2 separate regions of the Homo sapiens genome follow, and region 1 is linked to region 2. Evidence: fine-mapped expression QTL. Tissue or cell type: activated CD8 T cells. Region 2 holds a variant in brackets; the other region holds the start of a gene. All regions are shown on one strand. Distances are from middle to middle.

Region 1 (4,103 bases), 140 kb before region 2:
TCCCGCCTCGCCCTGCCCCCGCTCCCACGTTTGAAGTTAATAAATGGAAGCGCCTATCTCAGCCACCATCGGTTGCGCGCCTTATCAGCGCGGCACATCTATCTCCGCACGGAACAAAAGGCGCACAGAGGCGCGGGCAGCTGCGCCAGGGCTTTGATGGGGGCGCGGGTGGGGGGTGGGCGGCCCGAAGCGCTCGGCCCCCTCCGCTCTGCACTCGCGGCCCGGCCGCAGGTGAGGCCAGGGCAGCGGGCAGGCACAGGCGCTGGCAAGAGGGCGGGCGGGCGGGCGCCGCCGCTTGGTGACAATCAGCCTTCGCATCTTAACGTGCTGAGATCTGCCATGGGGAGGAGGCGCCCCGGGCCGCGAGCGACAGGGAGGGTCCGCGGCCCTGCCTTCCTCGTCCGGGCCCTTTCTCTGCCCCGGTCCCGGGCCGCAACGAGGATGGGCCGCGGTGGCTCACCGTGCACCCGCCGCGGTCCCAGTTCCCAAAGTGCGCGCGCTCTGCCCGCCCCGCTGGGCTGGGCTACGGGCTCTCGCTGGCGCTGGCGGCCTTATCAGCGCTGGAGATCGGTTTCCAACCTGCGATCTCCCTGTCCGAGCTATCTGCATTTCTCATCACAGTGAAACACCACACACACACACACACACACACACACACACACACACACACCCCAGAACCGAACATAGGCGCTCAGGGAAGGAAGGAAAAAGAAACCAGAGCACAAGCGCGGATCGGGACCTGTGGGTGGCTTTTAATACTTGAGTTGACACGATAGAAGGCGACTTTCGGAAAACAGGTCCCGTTTGCGCTGAGGGAGTTGGGTTACGGGAACCGGTTCATGCCTGTGACCCCCGCCTCGGGAGACCTCCTGAGTAGGGAAGCTCCCACAGGCCCCGCACAAGGGGTCCTGGTGGCAGTGGTCGTGTGGACAAAGGAGGTAGTGCCCGGGCGCCTACGGCTGGGCAGCGGGCGGGTTTCCGTCGTGGCCTCCTGGCAGGGCTCAGACGACCTGCCCGTCAGGCTCCGGGGAGGCGCCCCGGGGAGGAAGACCTGCGTCTGGGCCCTAACTGTGAGGCGCAAAGTTATTATTGGCATAGGGTGGGGAGGGTAGCTTCCTGTGCTCTTGCTCCCTCCTGGCACAGCCCAGAGGCCCAGGCCAGACAGTGGCCCCGACAGCTTAGTTCTCATCGCGGGGGCACTGGCAATGTGGCGGCGGGGCAGCAGCCTCTGACCGGGCAGGGAGCCGGACCAGCGAGAAACTTAGTGGCGTGCAGGGGCGACCCCGGCCCGGGGCTGCGTCCTGGGAGGCCCTTCTCTGACTCAGAGCAGCCCATTGGGATGCCAGGGGGTGCCCGCGGGCATCCGAGGGCACCATTTGTTGCCCATGCCGCCTTGGCTGGGACACTTGCAGGGTCCAGGAGGTGTCACCAGGCTGGCGGGGCCTGGGTTCAGGACTTCAGCGCTAGGGCACGGGGTGGGGGTGTCTGGGGGGCTGGAGCCAAGTGCCTAGGCTGCGGCAGCTGCGCGCTACCCCCTCCCCTGTCCTGCGGCTCTGCGACGGCACCGGTGGGGGTGGGCGCGGGCCGGTGCCTGCCACTTGGCCAGGCATCTCCGCGGCCCCGGGTGTCCCCTCTGCCTCCCAGGTCTCTCTCTTCGCTTCTAGATACAAAGCCTGGGAGAGTCAACCGCGCGAGATAAGATCACAATTTCAGCCCGTCCCGACAGAACGATCTTATCAGGACGGGACTTGCAGAATGTAATATTTTAAACTTTATCTGAGCCCAGATCGGGGCCGCCCTATCGCCGCACCATCTCGCAGATGCGGGGGAGGGGCAGGCCGCGAGGGGCCGAGCTGCCCGGGCCGCGCCCCCAAACACCCTCCTCCCGGCCTCCGGGCGGCCCCCTCCTGGGCTGAACCCCCCGGTGCCCAAGCCGAGACGCGGGGGCCCAGGCCGCCGGCGGAGATTAGATTACGGCGCGCTTGGCACAGCGCGGGGGGCGCGGCGCGGGGTGAAGGTCGCCGGCGCCCAGGGCAGAGCGGGGACGGGCGGGGGCGGCGCTGGCGGCTGGGCTCCGGCGGGGGTCGGGCGCGCGGAGGGGACCGCGGGCAAAGTTTGACTCACGCTTGATCTGCCGGGGGTTGCTCTGTTTCCGCCTGGACATGTCTCCGGCGCCGCGCGCCCTCCCGGCGGCCGCCTCTAGCCCCGGGCGGGCGGCGGCGGGCGGCGGGGGCGCGGCGGGGCCGCGGGGCCGCTCATGCCCCCGGCCCCCGGTCTCCGCGGCCGCCCCGGCCCGCGCCCCCAGCCCGCGCGCCCAGCCCCGGAGCCGCTGGAGCTGCCGCGGAGGCCCGAGAGGCCACGGTCCTGCGTTGCGGGCGCGCGGACTGCCCGACGGGCGGGTGCCGGCTCCTCCGCTCCCGCGCACTCGCCGCCGCCGCCGCGGCCGCTCGGCTTTTCTCAATGGAACCCGCGGGCGGCGAGCGGCGGAGCAGGCGGCCACTGCGAGGGCGCTCCTGGCGGGCTGGAGGCACGGGGCGGGGCCGGGCCTGAGCGTCGTCGGCCGCCGCACCTCCCGCCCCGCCCCCGGCGCTCCGGCCCCGCCCCGTGCCTCCTGCCGGGCCCTGCACCTCTCCGGCTCCGCCCCCAGCGCCGCGGCCACGCCCCCGCCAGCCCGGCTCTTCGTTGCTCTGGCTCCGCCCCCAGAGCCGCGACCGCGCCCCCGCCCGCCTCGCTCTTTACGGCGCTGGCTCCGACCCCAGCGCTGCGGCCCCGCCCCTGTCCGTCTGGGCCTTCAAGGCACTGTCCCCGCCCCGCTCGATGCCCCGCCCCTTCCTGGTTCGGCCCCGCCCGCGCCCCGGGGAGACCTCTAGCCTCCCCCACTCCTCTTTGGCCCGGAGGTCATGTCCCCAGGCCGCGCTGGGAGTCTGAGACCTATTCGGTTCTGTTCTGCTGCCCCGCGGCACCGCATCCTGCGCCCCGCCTCTCGGCGCCAGCTCCGCCTCCAAACCTGACCCGACCTGGTTGGGTCCTGAGACGCCGAGGCTCCGCCCCCGCACTGTAACTCCGCCCCCAGCCCTTGGTCCCTCCCTAGACCCCTGGGCTCTGCCGCACGCTCCACGTGCGCGGTGGGGGCAGTGACAACCGGCTCAGGAAGCCCGAGGCCTTGACGCCCACGTTTCTCTTGGGCCAGACTTGGGGTGTGGAGCGGATTCGGGCCAGGGAGGGGGCTTCCGTCCCAGACTGCGGTGGGGTCCGCCAACTGAGAGCAGGATCTCGGGTCTTCCCCTGTGAGCTCAGACCAGGCTGGAAATCGAGGAGGGGGCGCGGGAGCCGGCAGCCCTGGGCGTTGCCACTTGGGGCCTCTTTCCTCACCGAGCCTCTCCAGGGCGCCCCGCAGGAGACCCACGAAGGAGTTGCCCACAGCGCCCGGGCCACAGCCCCCTCTCGGAGCAGTCAGAGGTCAGCGAGGTTTGTGGGCGCGGTGCTGTCAGCTCAGGCCTGGAAATGGAGAACTGTTGCCCTCTGGGGTGTGTTCAAGAGCCCCACTTCACGGAGGCTCGGGGACTTGCTCAAGGTCACGCATTGGGGGGCTGTCCCCCACTCCCAGCTGAGTTGTATCATCTCCTTTTAATGTTCTCGGTCTACACTTGCTACCTGCTCCCCCATCCCCCGTACTCATAAGAAACGGGCGTCAGTGGGCCCAGGGGCAGACAGGAAGGACCCCTCCCACCTGATGATGAGATCATCGCACAGCAGGACTGTCACACCACCCGCCAGCCTGCTGGGAGCTCCTAAGACCCCATCTCGTGCCAACTTCTGTGACCTATTCCCTGGCTCCAAGGAAGGGGAGAAGTGGGGGCTTACCCTCAGAGCCTGGTACAGGAGAGTGGCGGGTGGGTAGGAGAGGCAGGGGTACAACACTGGATATGCGCCGTCCCTCCCCACTGCCATGGACAGACAGGAACACTGAGACCAGGAGGCCAAGAGAGCTGCCCAGGGGCATACGGGTCCTCCAGCCCTTCCTGCTCTCTGCCAGGGTCCAGTGGGCACAGCCTTCCCACAGCTGCTCTCTGGAGGGGGTGGGGCCCATGTCTGATTGGTTC
Region 2 (4,103 bases):
CCGTGACCCTGACCAGGAGCCACGATAATAACAAATATGTCAGTTATCCCTAGATCAGGCTGCAGAGTCAATCAGCTCCTTTTTCCTATACCAACAATTATTTCTGGAACTAAGTAAGTTGAGTCTAAAGTTCATATGGAAAAATAAACATCCAGGCCATCCTAGAATAATTCGTGAGGGCATGGAGGCGTGGAGTCCATGGCGCACCAGCATGGCTTGCAAAGCTACTGTAGTAAAATGCGGTTTGGGGCTGGTATGAAGATGGGTGGACCCATCAGTGGAACAAGGCAGACGCATTGACTGCGTTGTAAAGGCAGCATTTCAAATGGTCTTGGCACAGCTGGCTCACCCCCTAGACAAAGGAAAAATGGCGTCTCTCCCTCAAATCAAAGACTTAAGGGCAAAAAAACAAAAGCACTAGAAGAAATCATGAAAGATGTTTCTAACAAAATAATTTCAGCATGCGCAAGGCCTTTTGAAGAATGAAACAAAACACAGGAAGCTTAAAAGGAGGTGGGTATATGTGACCACATAAAATAAGGGTCTTAAAGCCAACACAAATGAACAAAACACAGGCACACGAGCAAGTGAAGAATTGGGGAGAAATTTGGCAACTTATATATCAGAAACAGGGGATTAAAGAAACAACAAAAAGAGTAAGTTACAGACCAACCCGTCAAGAGACAAATGGGCAAATGGCCTGAGAAGCTGGTGCAAGAAGGTAAATCCCAGCAACCTATAACCACATGAGAACAGGCTGAGCCTCCTGGGAATTAGAACTACCGTACTGATAGGCTTTGGCTGTGTCCCCACCCAAATCTCATCTTGAACTGTAGTTCCCATAATTCCCTTGTGTTGTGGGAGGGACCAGGTGGGAGATAATTGAATCATGGGGGTGGTTTCCCCCATACTGTTCTCATGGTACTGAAGAAGTCTCATGAGATCTGATGGGTTTATACTGGGAAACCCCTTTCACTTGGTTTTCATTCTCTCTTTGCCAGCTGCCATGTAAGATGTGCCTTTGCTCTTCCTTTGTCTTCTGCCATGAATGTGAGGCCTCCACAGCCATGTGGAACTGTGAGTTCATTAAACTTCTTTCCTTTATAAATTACCCAGTCTTGGGTATGTCTTCATCAGCAGTGTGAGAATGGACTAATACAAGCAGCCAATGAGATTTCACCATCAGGTGTTCCACAATCAATCATTTGAAAGCACGCAGCTTCAGGAACAAGCCCCAGGCTATATCATTGCGAAAATGCAAATCAATATGTCCTTGTTGGCGAACGACTTGGCCAACTCAATCCAAGTTTAAGACACAAAAACCTGGGGCCAAGTGTGGCCTCCCAGAAATCTACCTGGCAGGTACTCACAGAGACTTCCACACTAGGACTGTCTCTGCAACGCTGCAGGGACAGCCCTGAAACCACCAGACACCCCTCAGTTGGAGCCCAGCACAGTAAGTTATAGAATGAACCACTGACGGAGGGCAGGCCACCATCCCTTACTAGCTGTTCTGAAGTCCCCACAAAAGTTCTTCTGGAACTTGCTTGGAAATTTGCAGTGAGACTGTTTATTTTCTCTGCTTCTCCAATCAGGGTAAATATTCATGTTTCAGTGCAGAAACAGTCATGGGCTTTCTTATGGGTTATTTCCCTGGATCCCATGGGAGTGCTGTGTAAATGTACATTACATTTCTAAAATCCTGAGCTCTGAAATAAAAAGCCTGTCGAGCTCCAGGGTTTGGATAAAAGCCTGGGGACCTGCAGTTTCAGCTTTAAAAAGAGTGAGGCCTCAGCCAGGTGGCCAAGGTCAATGTCCCCTGCGATGCATCCTGTTGATGATGTAGACCCCTGAGGGGATGTGGTGAGATGGGCACTTCGCCCCCAGGGTCTTCCTCCCAGTGATTCATCGCTGTAGTCTAACCATGAGAAAAACACTAGACAATCCCAATTGAGGGATGATCCACAAAATGCCCAGGCGGTCCTCAAAACTGTCAAGATCCTCAAAAACAAGGAGTTGGAGAGGAGCCGAGGGAGGCGTGACGAGCAAATCCTGGGTGGGATCCGGATGTGGTCCTGGTGCAGGAGGAGGCTGTGAGGGTGCACGGTGAATGAGGATGGATCAGTGTTGGGTTCATCAGTGACAACAAAGGCACCGTGAGAGGGTGAGATGTGGACAGTTGGGCGCAGGGCAAGTAGAAACTCTATGCCATCTTCTCGATTTTTCTGTAAATCTAAAACTGCTCTTTTAAAAAGCCTATTAAAAATAAAAAGCAGCAGCCTGGCCAAAATGGTGAAACCCGGTCTCTACTAAAAATACTAAGATTAGTTGGGCATGGTGGCGCACACCTGTAATCCCTACTCAGGAGGTTGAGGCAGGAGAATCGCTTGAACCCAGGAGGTGGAGGTTGCAGTGAGCCGAGATCGCGCTGCTGCACTCCAGCCTGGGCAACAGAGCGAGACTCTGTCTCAGAAAGTAAATAAATAAAATTAATAAAAAAAAAAAA[AT/T]AAAATGAAGGACAAGGTACTGTCAAGGAACAAGATCCAAGACACAGGCTACAGAAAAACAAAGGGGGAAGTGCAGCTATCACTTTTGTGTGCAAATGGTTCCACCGGGAAGAAGGGGCAGCACGCAGGGCTGTGTTAGATGTGTGACTTGTGAGATGTGACCAGAGCCCCAGGCACACCCTTATTTCTGCCTTTCATGGCCACCCTAAAATTTAAGCAGTGGGAGGCACTGCCTTGTGTCTTAGCCAACAGCTCCCACCCCCCAGCTCCCCAAAGAAATTCTGCTTCCCTCCCCCAACCTCTCCTGCCTCAGAGTTTGGGGGTGGTGAGGAAGTCAGCAGGTGCCTGAAGCTGATGTCCTCCGTGTAATCTGAGGGTTCTGCAGAGATTTGCTCTCATGCCAGGCTGTCCCACCTGATGACCCCTTCCCTCCCCATTGGCTTCTCCCTGCCCCCACTGCACCACTGGAGGGCACCCCTGCTCCCCATAGCGCCCTCCCTCTCAGGCCACTCAGTGCACAGGAATTGCACACCTGTTATTGCTCTTCTGATTCTAGGAAGGGTTTTACAACACGGGTGGGTCATGGACCTGACTCTTCAAAGCCAGGCTACCCTGGGCAGTGGAGGGATCTGGCCTCTGGCAGGGGCAGGCCCTCAGGTTACAGCTGACTCCTGCCACGTGGGTTGTTTCTGCCTTAACAGAGTGGCCCTGATGCTTTGTTATTTTGATCCCAGGGACAGGACAGAGGGGCTTGGAGGCCAGCATTTGAGGAGAGTGAACCACACTCCCTGGCACCGAGAGGGCACCTCAGAGGGCACCCCCCCGCCAGGTGTCCTGAACACTGAGAGGGCACCTCAGAGGGCACTCCCCCCGTCAGATGTCCTGAACACTGACAGGGCACCTCAAAGGGCACTCCCCCCATCAGGTGTCCTGAACACTGACAGGGGACCTCAGAGGGCACTACCCCCGCCAGTTGTCCTGAACACCGAGAGGGGACCTCAGAGGGTACTCCCCCCATCAGGTGTCCTGAACACCGAGACGGGACCTCAGAGGGCACTCCCCCCGTCAGGTGTCCTGAACACCGAGAGGGGACCTCAGAGGGTACTCCCCGCGTCAGGTGTCCTGAACACCGAGAGGGGACCTCAGAGGGCACTCCCCCCACCAGGTGTCCTGAACACTGACAGGGGACCTCAGAGGGCACTCCCCCCGTCAGGTGTCCTGAACACTGTGCTCCTCCTGGCCCAGCTCGGAGGTGTCCCTGTAGGGCTGGCCACCACAGGTCACCGCTGTCCCACCCTCCTCAAATTGCCAGCACACCACCACGGAGCCCACTCCTCCAGGCTGTGACACTTATGAGGCCTTCCTCCTTCCCCTGAGAGGTGAGCATCAGCCTTAGGCCTCTGGGCAACACGCACAGGGCAGGATCAGGTATGAGAGACTCACTAGGGGAAAATCTGTGAGAAAACCGGGGCAGGAGCCTGGGAGGTTGGGAGAAGGTCCAGTCGGGACGTGGGTCTGGGCCCTGGGCAGGGGAGAGGAAAGGAAGGAAGGTTGGGAGCCCTTTGCACGGTGGCTCAGCAGGGCCACTGGGGGGAC

Evidence for each region. PIP is the estimated chance that this variant, and not a neighbour inherited with it, causes the effect.
Region 1: ZFPM1 starts here. The variant in region 2 is fine-mapped to the expression of ZFPM1 in activated CD8 T cells (Schmiedel 2018, PIP 0.95).

Annotation. Positions count from the first base shown.
Region 1 is chr16:88,451,700-88,455,802 of GRCh38, reverse strand. It overlaps ZFPM1 (zinc finger protein, FOG family member 1), which reads right to left and starts at 2,523. Exons shown (of 10, transcript NM_153813.3): 1 at 2,125-2,523. The coding sequence starts at 2,164. RefSeq lists silencers at 1-578, 1,519-1,588, 1,809-1,938, 2,399-2,488, 2,499-2,798.
Region 2 is chr16:88,308,968-88,313,070 of GRCh38, reverse strand. It overlaps a transcript of ZNF469 not described here. Among named protein-coding and RNA genes, the nearest start is that of ZNF469, 72 kb to the left of the region's middle. RefSeq lists an enhancer at 3,759-4,103. The variant AT/T (reference allele first, on the strand shown) is at 2,507.